Homo sapiens: one gene and its partners. The protein of the gene in region 1 purifies or fractionates together with the protein of each later gene. This does not show direct contact. Each region holds a gene or a part of one and is shown on either strand. Other genes may lie near its edges.

Region 1 (5,075 bases):
CCACATACCCTCTCATCTTATTCCTCAGTTACACAGGGCCTTCGTGGCAGGGAGAGGCAACCTCTCTCCACAGCCCAGGCACTCTCCCAGGTGTGAGCAGCTGTGCCCTACTGGTTGCTTATTTGTGTACTACTGTGATCCTGGGAGTGCTGAGTAGCCGTCTTTAGGTTGGGGATGCCCTGGACCCTCAGAGAGACTCAAGGCTTGACTCCCATGCCTCCTGCTGCCTCTGCTCATATCCCTACTGGGCACTGATTCTGAGTCCCCGTCCACAGCACTGCCTGCAGCCCCCTTCAACATCACCGTGACAAAGCTTTCCAGCAGCAACGCTAGTGTGGCCTGGATGCCAGGTGCTGATGGCCGAGCTCTGCTACAGTCCTGTACAGTTCAGGTAGGCTCTCCGGGCCGGGCCATGCTCGTTCTGGCTGCATGGCCAGCACTTTGTTGACAGGGATATCACACTCACTAGCCAGCTCCTGGGGGCTTGGTCTGCAGCTCTTTTCAGGCTCTGCTCCTTAGCAGGAAGAACACAGGCCACTGTCTCTTATCATGGGGTGCTCTGGCAACTAAGTGACTTTGCAGATTGGCTCAAACTCATGCATTCATAAGGTTGGAAAGCAGATCACTAGAACAGATTTGGGGTACCTGGAAGGTTTTTCTTTCTTTCTTTTTTTTTTTGAGACAGGGTCTCACTGTTGGCCAGGCTGGAGTGCAGTGGTGCCATCTCGGCTCACTGCAACCTCCACCTCCTGGGTTCAAGTGATTCTCCTGCCTCAGCCTCCCCAGCAGCTAGGATTAGGATTACAGTCATGCACCACCACGCCCAGCTAACTTTTTTTTTTTTTTTTTGTATTTTTAGTAGAGACTAGTAGTTCACCATATTAGCCAGCCTGATCTCAAACTCCTGACTTCAAGTGATCTACCTGCCTCAGCCTCCCAAAGTGCTGGTATTACAGGCATGAACCAGCACACCCAGACGAGTTTTTCTTACTTAGGTGAAAGCTCAAACCTTTGCTGATACTCACCCTATCATGCTCCACCTTACCCCCCAACCCCCACTCAAGCCAAAGAGAACAAGATGACCAGAAGGGGCCCTAAGCCTTGGAGAGTGGAAAAACTGTGTAAGGTGATACTAAAAACAAGAGGCAATGCAGGCTTGCTCATTTTCATCCGTTTACTCAAAGGCCATTTAATGAGTACCTTTCAAAACTGTTCTGGGCAGTTCCCCTGGGCAGGAGGGGCCCCTGCTCTGGGCTCCACCATTTAGAGAACCCTACTGAGGTTGGGCACAGTGGCTTATGCCTGTAATCCCAGCACTTTGGGAGGTGGAGACGGGAGGATTGCTTGAGCCTGGGGGTTCAAGACCAGCCTGGGCAACATGGCAAAACCCTTTCTCTACAAAAAATACAAAAATTATCCAGGCACAGTGGCATGCGCCTGTACTTCTAACTATTCAGGAGGCTAGAGTGGGAGGATGACTTGAGCCTGAGAAGTCAAGCCTGCGGTGAGCCGAGATCATGCCACTGCACTCCAGCCTGAGTGAGTGACAGGGCAAGATCCTGTCTCTATTAAAAAAAAAAAAAAAAAAAAAAAAAAAAAGAGGATCCTACTCTGGCCCTCCTTTGGCCACACCCCTTTCCCCGGGGCAAAGAGCCTACAGGGCCAAGAGGATATGCCCATCCAGATGGCAAGGACCCCCTCACTGCCACACTATACTATAGCTATTCAGGATCTCTTGCCCTAATGGTTCTGAGTCTGCTTCTGGGGTCTGTGTGGGCCTTTTCCCTGTTCCATCTTCCCAAGGATGGACCGCAGTGTGATATGACCACCTCTAAGCCCAAGGGGCAGCCATTCGTGAGGGGGATGGGAATGGAGCTTGGATATGCAGTCAGCATTGTCCACGCCTGTGCACATGAGGCCCCTCATGGTGCAGACCTTGGCTTCAGGCCAGCTCTTCCAGTGCCTCCTCATTCTGACTCGGGACTCCAGGGATTTGGAGAGTTACAAATGCAAACCTGATCTCCCAGGTTGTTTTGAAGGTTTATTGGTCAAAATATTAAGAGAGAAACTATTTAATAGTTTGTTAGCTGATTTATAATGTTTAAATATTTAGACATATAGTACGTGGATCTCTTTGTACTCTTGCCCTGGGCCCCCAAAATGTAAGATGAAGGGCTGGTTCATAGTGCCCTAGGCTCCCAGTTTTCTCTGAGCTTCAGAAGCTCTAGAACTTTGGAGTGGCATGTAAACAGGCACAGTAAGTGGTAAGTATACCCTAAGAGTTTCGTACCAAGTACAAAAGGACAAGAGTTTTCTGGAGTGGTTGAGAAAGGCTTTCACCAAGAAAGTGATATTTGCACTGAGTCTTAAAGGATGAGTAGGCCTTTGCTAGGAAGAGCAGGTCATTCCAAGTGAAAGGAACAGCATTTGCAAAGGTATGAAGATGTGGAACCCTGTGTATTATTGGGGTGGGGGCAGATGGGAGGGCGTGGGTTGCAAGTGTTTGCTGATAGAGGAAGCATTCATTCAAGCACCCATAACTATACCCATCCCATCTTCCATCTCTCACAGGCTCTCCCCTACATCATTAGTTTTCTGCTTTTCTGTAGGTGACACAGGCCCCAGGAGGCTGGGAAGTCCTGGCTGTTGTGGTCCCTGTGCCCCCCTTTACCTGCCTGCTCCGGGACCTGGTGCCTGCCACCAACTACAGCCTCAGGGTGCGCTGTGCCAATGCCTTGGGGCCCTCTCCCTATGCTGACTGGGTGCCCTTTCAGACCAAGGGTCTAGGTAAGGGATGCATAGAGCAGAGCGGGTGGGCAGGGCTGGAGCCGGGAAGGGGGCCGTGTTGGCTGGAGTTCTGAATGGTGCTGGTAGAGATGGAGGTTCAGGCATCATTCGGCAAACATTTACTGCATATAACTACATACCACCTTGTAAGTAGTTCTTGTAGGTGGAACAGATAAGCAAACTGGAAAAGATCAGATAATGTGGTTGATAAAGAGTGTCCCCAGGTGGTTAAGGAAACCCCCCCTAAAAAGGTCTGAAGGATAAAGATCTGAAGGATCTGGGATCTGAACGATAAAGAAGAAGCCATGTAAATATCTGGGGGAAAATCACTGCCGGAAGAAGGCACAGCAAGTGCAAAGACCCTATGACAGGAACTTGCTTGGCAATTGCAAAGAGGCTGGCATAGCTGTGAGAGGGGAGTGGTAAGGGGTGAGGCAGAAAGGCAGTAACCATGGTGATGAAGAGCAACACTGCCGAGCTGGGGTGCTGCCTGTCCTGCCCATTGCTTACCCCTCCCCCAGCACAGTGGGTGAGAGCAGTCAGAGCTGGGAGGTGAACCCTTCCCCAGTTTGTGCCTCTCAGAGCTGTTTAGTTCTTGGGAGTTGATTCCAAAGGTCTGCATGGAATTATGATGGTGGGAAGGGCAGGGGTCTTAGCAATCTTCTCTCTTTGGCTGCAGCCCCAGCCAGCGCTCCCCAAAACCTCCATGCCATCCGCACAGATTCAGGCCTCATCTTGGAGTGGGAAGAAGTGATCCCCGAGGCCCCTTTGGAAGGCCCCCTGGGACCCTACAAACTGTCCTGGGTTCAAGACAATGGAACCCAGGTAAGACAGAACCCTCCCCTCTCTCCACTCTCCTGGAGTATAAGCCTTCAGGGTTCTAAGGCCTTTAAGAATTTCAAAATGATTGTCTTTGGTGGGCCTGGGTCTCCCGCAGCCCCAGGGAATCCTTTCCTCCTCACCCTCCTCTGCAAGCTCCACTTCTCAAAGGATTATGTCTCCTGTTAGGGTTGCATCCTGTGTGCACTTTGTAAATAAAGCAGGAAGCACATTCCTGCTTGAGCTGGGGGAGGGCACAGATAAGGCTTTGTCCCCAGCTCAGTTCGCTCCCATCCCCCACCTGTGCATTCCGGGACTGAGCCTTGTTTGTGTTCTGGAGAGGCCCCTGCAGCCGGGAACAGGAATGTGATTACTCCCAGAAGGTTGTGTTCCTGCAGCCCCTGAACCCACAGTGCCCCTATACTCCCATGTTCCCAGCTGGACCTTTTTCTGTCCTCAGGCCCCAGCTGGAGGCCTTCTCCCCAGGCTCACTATGGGGTGGGGGCTTTTCCTGGCTGCAGGATGAGCTGACAGTGGAGGGGACCAGGGCCAATTTGACAGGCTGGGATCCCCAAAAGGACCTGATCGTACGTGTGTGCGTCTCCAATGCAGTTGGCTGTGGACCCTGGAGTCAGCCACTGGTGGTCTCTTCTCATGACCGTGCAGGTGAGGCTTGTAGGTGGAGAGGGGCAGAGGCTCAGGGGATCAAGGTTTTCAAGGGCAACCTAGACTGATGGGAGGAGCCTAGTAGCATCTCCCCTCCTAGTAGACCCACAGACAGAGTGAAGAAGTTGAGGCCAGGGCTGTTTAAACTATCTTGGCTGGGCATGGTGGCTCATGCCTGTAATCCCAACATTTTGGGAGGTTGAGGGATCGCTTGAGGCCGGCAGTTTGAGACCAGCTCTGGCAACATAGCAAGACTCTGTCTCTACAAAAAAATTAAAAAAAAAAAAAAAAAACAATTAGCCTGGTGTAGTGACATATGCCTGTTAAGCCCAGCTGCTCCAGAGGCTGAGGCAGGAGGATTGCTTGAGCCCAGGTGTTTGAGGCTGCAGTGAGCTATGATTGCACCACTGCACTCCAGCCTGGGCAACAGAGTGAGTCTGTTGTCTCTAAAGAAACAAACAAATAAGGCCAGGAGTGGTGGTTCACACCTATAATCCCACAACTTTGGGAGGCTGAGGTGGAAGGATTGCTTGAGTCTAGGAGTTTGAGACCACCTTGGGCAGCAAAGTGAGACTTTACCAAAAAAATTTAAAAATTAGTCAGGTGTGATGTTGCACACCTGTAGTCCCAGCTACTTGGGAGGCTGAAGTGGAAGGATTGCTTGAGCCCAGGAGGTTGAGGCTGCAGTGAGCTGCAACTGTGCCCCTGCACTCTGGCCTGGGCAACAGAACAAGACTGTGTCTCAAACAAACTATATCTCATTCTCCTCTCTCTGCCCCAGAACTGGCATAGAAATCCATGGT
Region 2 (3,500 bases), on another chromosome or scaffold:
GCCTCGGCCTCCCAAAGTGCTGGGATTACAGGCGTGAGCCACTGCGCCTGGCCCCACTTCATCTTCTTTCGTCATTCCACCAAATTTAGAATGCCCTCCTTTTCTCCACTTAGCCAAACTCTAATAATCCTTCCGAAATGCTCAAATCCTCCTTTTTCAAATCCTCAAGTAAAGCCTTAACTCACCAAACCCTAACATGACATGATCTCACCATTTTTGTAATAATAACATCAGTAGCTAACAATAAATACATACTATGAGCTAGGTATAGTTCTAAGGTCTTTATATGAACACTTAAATAATCATCTCAAAATTCTATAAAATAGGTCCTATTACTTCCCCATTTTACAGACTAAAAACAAAAACAAAACTAAAGAACAGAGATGTTAAGTAATTTGTCCAAATCAATCAGCATCAAGTTTAAAAGGTTAGTATTTTTGCTAATCCCTAGTCAGCTTCATTCATTAAAGAGCAAAAAACTAAATCAAGGAAATATGAAAACAGTGCCAGGTGTACAAAGCAACTAAAGACAGTCCTGAACACTGAATAACTTTTCTATGTGAGCCTTTAATCTGCCTGAAAGAAAAAAAACCTTCTAAGAAGCTATTTGCACTCTAATCTCAAAAGGAATGACCTTTATTCTCAAGAAGTCACCAATGTTGGGCCCCTCTTATTTAAATACTGTTTATGTGTTGGGGGGGTACCAAAGTTTTCCTCCTTGACAGAGGTAATGAATTAATTATTATCAGGAGAAACGCTTTAGAAGATAATATGCTGACGTGGTCATGTGAAATCTGAATAAGAAATCACAATTTACATAGATGAGCAAAGGACTGAGGGTTCAGAACAAGCACCCAAATGCTATCCTTCATTTTCATACAAAGGGGGAAAAATATATGTGTTTACTTCAAAATAATGTTCCAGAAATCATAATTTCAAAACCTTTAAATTATTAAAACACACATCAGAATTCTAATACAAATAAATTAGAAATGTAATTTTGAATAGTCTCTTGAGATAACTACTCTCTCTCAAAAATAGCTTTGTACCTAAATAAACTTTCAGTCTATCATTGAGTAGAGCTGAAAATAGGACAACGAATTACGGCATTTAACAATCTACATTAGATAACTCACAAATTCACTTATAGTAAACAGCTTATACTCTTTATAAGTTTTCAGTAAGTTTTAAGAGTTCCTATACTCCCAACAGAGACAAAGACAAAAGGTTTCCATTTGCCAAAGTAAATCAAACAAAACATTTCTGAAATCACTCCGTGATATAATACAAATTATTTATGAGGCAGAGGCTGAGTAAACGATTCTAGTAGGCATCCAGTCTGTCCAACATTAGAAGTCTCAAGATTACCAGAAGTACACTGGGCCACAGAGAAATAGGGAATTTTAGCCTAGGTAGGACCCCCAAATCAAAACAGAAGACTATGCATCTTAAAGGAATAACGGCCTCAGTTTGTTCATTGTGCTTCCACACTGCATATCCTTGTCACTAGTAGCTCCCTAATTATTCAAGTCATTCAACAAGCACTCATCAAGTACTATTTGTGCCAAGCACAGTGCTTGCGTATATAACAGACCAAAAAAAAAAAAATCTGACTTTGTGATCTTGTTAAGGAAACAGAACCCATAAAAATTCAAGGCTACAGTGCAAACTATAAAATGCTCTAAGATTCCTGTGCCCCTAAGTACTGGGTTTTTGCTGCTAACATCTTTACATATTATAACTATGGAATTACATGTAAAAGACAGGTAGAAAAGACAAGACTGGCGATCAGGAAGCTCTGATTCTTTCTGTGGCCTTGAGCAAGTCTCTGAACCTGTACAGGCCATTAGGAAAATGAAGAGTTTTGGATTAAATTATTGAGTCTTTCTAGTTCTAAAATTCTATGATTCTCAATCTGAAATTGTTTTTAATGGAGTCCTTCGGAATCTTAGGAGACATAGTAATCTAACTCTAGATGCTTCCAAGTGCTTTGAGTTTTAGAAAACCAAATAAGCATAAACATACCTTTCACTGACTATAAAGAAGCCTATGTCCCTTCAATCAGTTATTAAAAGCCTGTCTTCCACAAAAGTGTTAATTTTCATTTCAAACAACATGTCTGTAATGCATATGATTCAACTTTTAAAAATTAAAAGGAACACATTTTTACATATTCTAGATATGTACATACAGTCAATAGCACATTTCCTTTTCAACACTCTTCAGAGAATATTAAAATAACTTTGGACAAATAAGCACATAAAATATATACATATATACCATAGGGTCAGGCGCAGTGGCTCACACCTATAATCCCAGCACTTTGGGAGGCCGAGGCAGGCGGATCACCTGATATCAGGAGTTCAAGACCAGCTGACCAACATGGAGAAACCCTGTCTCAACTAAAAAAATACAAAATTAGTCAGGCACGGTAGCACATGCCTGTAATCCCAGCTACTCAGGAGGCTGAGACAGGAGAATCGTTTGAACCCGGGAGGCGGAAGTTGCAGTGAGCCGAGATCACGCCATTGCACTCCAGCCTGGGCAACAAGAGTGAAACATAGTCTCAAAAAAAAAAAAAGAAAAAAAAGAAAGAAAGAAAGAAAAAGAAAAAAAAATACCATATGGGTCAGATGGCCACCTGAATCCTAATTCAGTAGGTACAGTAAGAGATATCAGGGGCTTTGGGGAATGGGCATAAGGTATTGTCCCTTCTTAGGACAAGCTATATAATTTGTGCGACCCAGTACAGAAAAATACAGAGCCCCTTGTTAAAAAATTTAAAACTTCAAGATGTTACAGGATAGCATGAAAACAAGCTCTCACACAGTCTTTTGTGACTATTCAGGGCACGTGCCCATGAAGTCAACACTATTGCTCCTTAATGCTAACCCAAAGATCTCAGAAACAACTCATCATGGAGCCACACTCATTCGAGCATTTAAGCATTTAAGCACTTAAAAATCAATATAGAGAACCACTCAATACCTAGTGCTTTACTGTCTTATTTTTAGGATAAAGGGGAATAGAGCATATGGCGGCTCACAGTGCAGAAGACTATCAACTCAGAATGCCTAAGTTCAAATCCCACCTCTACCCCTACCAGATGTGTGTTATCTGCAGGTGACCTCACCTCTCTAGATTCACTTTCCTCATCTACAAAATGGGCATATTACTCACCTCGTAGGTTATTAATAGATGAGTTAATAAGTGTAAAATACTTAGAACAGTGCATAGCCAGCAGGGCATGGTGGCTCACACCTGTAATCCCAGCACTTTGGGAGGCCGAGGCAGGCAGATCACCTGAGGTCAGGAGTTCAAGACCAGCCTGGCCAACATGGTGAAACCTCGTCTCTACTAAAAATACACAAATTAGCCAGGCATGGTGGCAAGCACCTGTAATCACAGCTACTAGGGAGGCTGAGGCAGGAGAATTGCTTGAACCCAGGAGGCAGAGATTGCAGTGAGTGGACATTGTGCCACTGTACTCCAGCCTGGGT
Region 3 (4,300 bases), on another chromosome or scaffold:
TCACAAATGTAAAAGCCTTTAGAAATTACTATACTCCCTTTTAATTTAAAATGATGAATATATCAAATATTACCAAGAGCAAAAACATCACAAGTTTTTCTGGTAAGGACTCACATTATTCACATTAACCCTAACAAATATAAAAATTTGGATGCCTATTTATCAACATAGGTTGCAGGCAGAGTTCATATACTCCAAAGAGGAAAAGTACAGATTTGAGGGGAGTTATTGCAAACGTTTCAACTATTTTAGTTCCTTTAGAAGAGGAGCCCTTTTAACAAAATGATGGATTAGCCGTGTCCAAGTATGTGCCATTTATAATGTATACTAGATAACATAATCTTAAAGTGGATTTGATAACAGTATTAACACATATTTTTAAAAGAATCTTATTATTTGTAACAGGCAGAAGACAACTGATCTCATGTAAATTAGTTTCCACCATCCCTAACAATTCTGGTTACATTAAGAGGAAAAAACACTTTCTGAGGCAATCAAAAACTTACAATAGTGAGTGAGATGCTCTGATATACTTCTTTTTTTAGTATCTCCCTGTCATTTTTTTCTTTGTGCGTGTGATTATTAGAAACTGTATTTACACTTCAGAGTGTGGTGGGGCACACGGTGGGAAGGAGATACAGGAAAAATGCAGAATGGGAAAATTCCCTCAACCTGTTGGGCTGCTTACTGGGAAGACTAAAATTTAACAAGTCTCAGATTCTTGTTAAAGACTTGCTTTGAAAAGCTGTCTCCTTAGAACAAACAATGTTTTAAAGATAAGTAATGGTTTAAAGATATCCATTAAAGTCTCTATAAAATGAAAAATGTTTCTAAAATGCCGTGTCATTAATATTATATTGAAAAGTTGAGAGTCGTATGAGTCAAAAGGAAGGAAATACATACATGAGATGGTCAAGAGAAGTGTTAATTTACCCATCCGGTCCGAAATTGCAAGTGTTTGTAAACTGACAATTGCAGATGAAATAGTCATTTTCTGTGCACTTTCCGGTATTTAAGTCTCCAGATACAGCATTTAACCTAAACTCAACGGAATTATTTTAAAAAAAAAAAATCTTAAACGAGTATGTGCTAGATCAAAGCTGAAGCTTCCTCCGTTTAGATTTACGCGCACCTTCTTCCTTGCCACAGCTCGACACCCCCACCCATGCCTTGCCGGGAAAGCTCCTGGTCTTCCATGGCCTCTGGGAGCCTCGAGCGAATGCGAGAAATTCTGAGAGCAGCACCCGTAGTTTCGTTCCCCATCCTCAATCCCTTCGCAAAGGAAACACAAAACCCCAAATGCATGCTTGTAAACTGAAAAGCTGAAAATGCTTTTAAATATATTACAAAAGAACACATTCTCTAAGCCGTTTCCATTTGTAGTCACTTCATAAGCTCAGATACTTTGTTGGAACAGTTCCCGGGCAAATGGATGCGCTTATTTGTCCAATTCCTTCTCCATAAACATATCGTAGATCATAACTACCAATCCCATATTCATACCTCGCTGACCTTAAGGGAGGACAACCCTTGGACCCACTCCCACTTGCCAGGGTGGAGGGCCAGGAAGCAGTAAGAATCCGCGAGACCAGACTCGGCTCACTGCCGACGCGGGTATAGACCTCGCTCCCATCGGACCCCATGCGCATCCATGGATGCGGGTAAGTCGCGGGTCCGCGGCTCCTTTCTGGGCGTGCGGAATGAAACTCTGTTGAAGCCTGAAGCTTCGCGTGTAACCGCGCCGCCAGAGTTCCGAACACTTCAAGTCTCCCGTGTTCTCAGAGCATCGTCTCTAACTTCCTCTCCTAGAGGATTTCGTCCTGGGCGGCAGGTTTCCGTAGACTCGAAACCCCAGGCTGTGCTCCGGCCGCGCAGTCCTCCCCGGAGCCGGAGTAAGTACGACGCAACCCCACCGCATCCATCATCCCCCACCACTGTCACCCTCTACCCGCCTCCACACCTCGGCAGCATCCCCAAAACACAACACGACCCCAACCCCCATTCTGGCCCGGTCTTCCCACACTTTCGCGCCCCCGGCACATCCCGCCCCCAGCTGGGTGGCTGGCGGGGGTGGACCGCTTGGGTGAGCTTCTGAATACCCTTTAGGGGAGATACCGAGAAACCCACTTCTCAGGGGCAGCCCCACCAAGGGACCCAGGGACACAGCCCCGGCTCCACTCACTAACGAACCAATCCGGGTCAACTGCGACCCAGAGCTGGGGAGGGGGCAGCCCCTAAATCCCTTTTCAAGTCTGTGCTTTGAGCTCTCAGGGATCCTCTCCACCCAAAGGCGCCCTCCAACCACCATCACCACCAGCTCCACCACCTGGGGAGAAGCGTGAATCCCAACCCCCTGCCCAACCCGCGACGGCGCCCGCCAGAGCGCAGCGAAGCCTGAGCGCGACTCAGAATTCCAACAATCGAACACCTTGTCTCAAAACAAAAAGCTCAGTCCAGAGTCGACCCGCAAACACACGTTTTCTCTCCTCACTCCTGCAGGCCCGAACTTGGGGCTGCTACCAGACCCGCAGCATTGATCTGAGCCGCGGTTGTCACGTTTCGGCCCGCTTTGTCCCCAGCTCCGTGCAGCGTCCAGGGCGGATCCACCCCCGTCCCCACCCCAGCCCTATCCGGCGAGATCTGGCTTACCACGAGGGTCAGCAGCAGATGCAGGCAGACGGCTCCGCGCACGGAGCGCCGGGGCCCAGCGGCGGCCATCGGGATGCCGGGCAGGGCCAGGAGAACGCGGGCGCCGGGAGGGTGCCGAGAGCGAGACCTGCCGAGGTGCAGGGCGCGGGAGGTGCTTTTCTCGCCGCTGCTTGTTTTTAAGTGTATTTGGCCTCTCTCAGGCTTGCCTGCCCGGGAGCAACTTCACTTCTGAAACCGGATTGGACCCAGAGGACGCGGAGAGGCCACTCCTTGTTATTTCTCAAGTTTTATCATCGCCGGCGCGGCTGAGGAGCTGCCCGAGCCTGCCCCTCTGCTCCCCAGCAGCCACCCGGGCGTTCGCGCTCGGGAAAGCGGTCTCTGGCGCACCCTCTGCCAGTTCTCCCACGCCCCTCGGCTGCCCCGCGGCGCTGCCGCCCCGCCCGGCCCGCAGAGAGGCCCTGGCAGCCCAGATCGTCCCAGGGCGGCCCCATCGCCGGCGCTGCGCGGTGCATCTCAATGCAGAACCCCAATCCGCCCGCAGGGATCCCTGCCTCGACACGGGCTCTGCTGGATGCCAGGAACACCCTTGTCATTGGATCAGCGGATCTCCCCTTCGACGTCTGAACAAATTCTGCCAATGTTTTCAGATTAAAGCAAAATACATGTACTGTATTCTCTCCGGATTTGACTAACATGACAAAATACACGACAGAAGGAATTTATCCCAGATGGCATGATAAACAGTTTTTGGCATGTCAGAAATTAAAACCAAATTTAAGAAATTCTAATCTAACCATTTTTACGCACCCAAAATATGAGTGATTACACTCAGCGCTCTATTAACTGTCAGTTTGGGGGACTCATATGAACCTTCTAAAAACGACTTTGTTCTTAGATGTGAATTATTGGTTTACTACTTACTGGTACCAAAATGAAATTTTTCAGGTGGTCAAAGGAATATCTACCACACAAAACCTTCTAAAACGAGGCTTACAGATTCTACATCATGCAACGACTATTTATCAGGGCCCGAAGTCGGCCAAGCTTTGTGTGAGGGCATGGAAGAAAGGAAATGCAGAAAATCTAGTTCCTGTCGGAAATAATTCAAAGTCAGAAAGGGACGAAAGACAATCATTCCTAGCCCAGTAGGCTACACTTTTTAATAGAGATGTCGTTTGTAACACCAGGGGGACATCCTCTTATTTCTCCCTAAACTGAATTTTAAGTTCCCCGAGTTCCCATCTACTGGATTCAGGAGGAAATCCCTCTCAGACATGAGATGCTACTCCTCGAAGTCCATTCAAAAGTTGCAAGGTCGGGAATTTCAGACAGCCAATTAATCATGAAAGGGTGTTATGACCTTCATTCATCTCACTCTGGCTCAAGTCTAATAGACTCCTCGTCGTCTAAGCCATGTATTCCCTGAAGTCTGGGGCTTCCCTGAAACTCATGAGGCTCAGCTTTAAGGGCTCAGACACTCTAAGTTGAGCTTCCCAGTGTGAATCTCCCAGGCACCCGTCAGTGGAGGTCTCTGTATGTAAGAGCTCTTCCAGTCTCAGAGAAAGTTCTCCAAACTTCTCTCCACTCCAGGGTTTTCACCTCCCATCCTCCACGTGCCTCCAGCATGACCTCAGAGAAAGCTTCTCAAAGT
Region 4 (3,500 bases), on another chromosome or scaffold:
GTTTATAAGGTACATACAGTTCTGAACCGCTTCCCTCACTTACTGTTATAGTGTAACCACTTATGTAGATTTCTTCATTATAATCATAATTATCATTGCAATGTCTTCCTAATATCCAATCAAGTGGATATGCCATAATGTAGTTAACCTTTTCCCTCTTGTTGGACATTTGGATCCTTTCAAAAACATTTTTAATAATTAAAATATTAGGCTGGACTAGGTGGCTCATGCCTGTAATCCCAGCACTTTGGGAGGCTGAGGTGGGATGATCACTTGCCTCCAGGAGCTCGAGACCAGCCTGGGTAACATAGAGAGATCTGTCTCTACAAAAAATGCAAAAATTAGCTGGGCATGGTGGCACATGCCTGTAGTCCCAGCTACTTGGGAGGCTGAGGTGGCAGGATCACTTGAGCCAGGGAGGTTGAGGTTGCAGTGAGCTGTGATTGCACCATTGCACTCCAGCCTGGGCAACAGAGCAAGACCCTGCCTCAAATATAAAATAAATAAAATTAAATTAAATAAAAGTATTGTTATGATAAACCTTGGTAGAGTTTTGTTTTTTTTTTTTTTGAGACAGAGTCTCGCTCTGTCACCCAGGCTGGAGTGCAATGGTGCGATCTTGGCTCACTGCAACCTCTGCCTCCTTGGTTTAAGTGATTCTCCTGCCTCAGCCTCCCGAGTAGCTGGGATTACAGGTGCCCACCACCATGCCCGGATAATTTTTGTATTTTTAGTAGAGACAGGGTTTCACCAGCTTGGCCAGGCTGGTCTCGAATTCCTGACCTCAAGTGATCCACCCGCCTCGGCCTCCCAAAGTGCTGGGATTACAGGCGTGAGCCACTGCACCCGGCCTTGGTAGAGATTTATGGTTCTCCATAGTCCACTGTCCTTCCTGGCCCCCAGGAATCCTGTGCTTCTCAGAAGTCAGAGATTTGCATCCCTACCCAAATGAGTTAAAAGAGGCTAGAACCCTGGCATGGTGCTCATACAAGACAGTAACCCCTGGCTCAGTGCTTTACACTTAAGAAAACTGAACACTGTTGCTACTATTAACCCCTATTTAAGTTTTTACAAAGTCTCTCATATTACTGAATACTCTTGTAATTATTTTATTTTGAATAACAAAGTACTGTTTGGGGAACCTGCATCAACCAGAAGGAACTCAAAATAGCTTAAAGATAAAGGCTTACCTGTAACAGTGAAGAACACACAAAAGGCTGCTTCTTGTTGATAGGAGCTGTGCAGAAAACATACCTCACTCGCAGACTTAGTGGAATATGCTGGATCAACTCTGCAGAAAATTTAAAATCATCCATATTGCAGACAAAATACTGCCCATCAACTTGTGAAAAGTCTACAAAAATATCCTTGGGGAAAAAAAGACAGAAATTACTGGACTGCCTAAGTGAATTAAAATGAACAATGAATAACATACTCAAGTCTATAAAAGACAATCTCTTTAATCCAGAACAAACTTCCATAAAGGCTTGCTTTAATCACTCCCTCATATCCTTCCCCACCTGAAATACTGAGAGGAAATTCCTCAGGGCTAAAGTCCCAAAAGATTTTGAGAAAAAATTTTCACTTGTAAAATAAATTTTATAAATAGCAACTTCTCAAAGGCAGACTATCCATTCATGCTCATGAGGTTAACCAGTAATCACCTGACATATCAACATTTTTAGGGGAGATGTGAAAGGGAGTTTCCACTTACAATGAGATTGGACAGTGTTGCATCAGGGAGATGGTAGGCAAACATTTCAATCTGCTCAGCAGTTGGATGAAGACCAGCTGCCTTTTAGTAAAAGAAAAAACAATCATAAGCTGATTTTTTTTTTTTCAAAAAGGACAAATTTTCTTAAGTTATTGCACGATAAAGTCCCATTCAGGCTAAGCTCTCACCATATGAAGTAAATGCCAAGAATTTGAGTAAAAGAGAAAAAATATCATTTTACCATTTATTACCAATTAGAAAAGTTGATGATTTAGTAAAAATGACAGATTATGGCCACTGAGAAATTAGTCTTTTGCTTACATTTTAGTTATATTTCTAAAACCTATGATGATCTGGCAGTGTACAAAAAATGATTTTATGGGCTGGGTGTGGTGGCTCATGCCTGTAATCCCAGCACTTTGGGAGGCCAAGGTGGGCGGATCACGAGGTCAGGAGATTGAGACCATCCTGCCCAACATGGTGAAACCCCGTCTCTACTAAAAATGCAAAAATTAGCTGGGTGTGGTGCTGCGTGCCTGTAATCCCAGCTACTCGGGAGGCTGAGGCATGAGAATCACTTGAACCCAGCAGGCAGAGCTTGCAGTGAGCCGAGATCGCGCCACTGCACTCCAGCCTGGCGACAGAGCAAGACTCCGTCTAAAAAAAAAAAAAAGATTTTACGGCCAGGTGCAGTGGCTCATGCCTGTAATCCCAACACTTTGGGAGGCCAAGGTGGGAGGATTACTTGAGGACAGTAGTTCAAGATCAGCCTGGGCAACAAAAGGAGATTCCCATCTCTACAAAAAATTTTTAAAAAATCAGCCAAGCATGGTGGTGAGCACCTGAAGTCCCAGCTGCTCAAGAGGCTGAGGTGCAAGGCTCTCCTGAGCTCAGGAGATTGGGGTTACCGTGAGCCGTGATCATGCCACAGCACTGAAGCCTGAGTAACAGAGTGAAACACTATCTCAAAAAAAAAAAAAAAGGAAAGAAAAACCTGTTTTCCAGGGTAAAACCATTTTCCATGTCTCATTTCTCCTCATTGAATTAAAATGAATAAGAAAAACCCAGTCACTTTAACCAAGGCAATAAAACTAACATAGATATATACATCTAGAAAGACATGAGAACATTTTTAAACTGGAAGTGAGTTCTCTTTAGCTACACATTACACCGTTAGGACATGGCCACAGGAAAGTATAAGGAATGAAGTATGAAACAGAGAGAGAAAGTGAATGAAAAAGACAGAAGAAAAGAGGCAAGAGAAATTAGTCATAAGGGAGGGAAGAAGAGTCCAAGACATGAGGTGCCCAGGAGGGAAGCAGGGAGGTCACAGGAGCCAACCACGAACCTAACTGTACTGCTGAGAAGTTACAGAAATGATTCCAGCACAGCCTTCCCCTGGAAGCTTCTCTCCCTGCATGCTTCTCCCTGTATGATCTCATGTCTATACTCCCCTTCATCTAGTGTCACAAATGAGATAAGCCATGTAAGTGAATTTTCCAGGGAACTTTAAATTTTGACTATTACTAGAAAGTTTGTTTCAAATATGTACAATTCTAACTCATTAACTAATATTAACCAAAATTTAACCTTCTCCTCACTGGATGAAGTTGTATTGCTTAGGGCTGTTTTTGCCCCAAGCAATACAAGGTTTCGTCTATATTCAGGCTTCTGGTCATTTTTCAGTCCACTAATGTAGCTCTGTGTGCTCAGCTGAAGAAACTGCTTTTCTCCCTGTTCCTTCCCGCTGCTAGATTCCGGAAGGAAGTAAAGGCAAATCAGGCTC

Evidence for each region.
Region 2: the proteins of TYRO3 (region 1) and TM9SF3 purify together in Homo sapiens (affinity purification with mass spectrometry; one large-scale study listed by BioGRID and IntAct). This does not show direct contact.
Region 3: the proteins of TYRO3 (region 1) and DSC3 purify together in Homo sapiens (affinity purification with mass spectrometry; one large-scale study listed by BioGRID and IntAct). This does not show direct contact.
Region 4: the proteins of TYRO3 (region 1) and SUPV3L1 purify together in Homo sapiens (affinity purification with mass spectrometry; one large-scale study listed by BioGRID and IntAct). This does not show direct contact.

The regions. Positions count from the first base shown.
Region 1 is NC_000015.10:41,564,751-41,569,825, forward strand, and holds part of TYRO3 (tyrosine-protein kinase receptor TYRO3 isoform 1 precursor), read left to right. Parts: intron 1-275; coding exon 276-391; intron 392-2,609; coding exon 2,610-2,787; intron 2,788-3,466; coding exon 3,467-3,612; intron 3,613-4,127; coding exon 4,128-4,272; intron 4,273-5,075. UniProt on the Homo sapiens protein: Receptor tyrosine kinase that transduces signals from the extracellular matrix into the cytoplasm by binding to several ligands including TULP1 or GAS6. Regulates many physiological processes including cell survival, migration and differentiation.
Region 2 is NC_000010.11:96,580,513-96,584,012, forward strand, and holds part of TM9SF3 (transmembrane 9 superfamily member 3 precursor), read right to left. Parts: intron 1-3,500.
Region 3 is NC_000018.10:31,039,943-31,044,242, forward strand, and holds the start of DSC3 (desmocollin-3 isoform Dsc3a preproprotein), read right to left. Parts: upstream 2,801-4,300; 5' UTR 2,719-2,800; coding exon 2,650-2,718; exon of another isoform or gene 2,500-2,649; intron 1,893-2,499; exon of another isoform or gene 1,591-1,892; intron 1-1,590. UniProt on the Homo sapiens protein: A component of desmosome cell-cell junctions which are required for positive regulation of cellular adhesion. Required for cell-cell adhesion in the epidermis, as a result required for the maintenance of the dermal cohesion and the dermal barrier function.
Region 4 is NC_000010.11:69,200,734-69,204,233, reverse strand, and holds part of SUPV3L1 (ATP-dependent RNA helicase SUPV3L1, mitochondrial), read right to left. Parts: intron 1,796-3,500; coding exon 1,715-1,795; intron 1,368-1,714; coding exon 1,191-1,367; intron 1-1,190. UniProt on the Homo sapiens protein: Major helicase player in mitochondrial RNA metabolism. Component of the mitochondrial degradosome (mtEXO) complex, that degrades 3' overhang double-stranded RNA with a 3'-to-5' directionality in an ATP-dependent manner.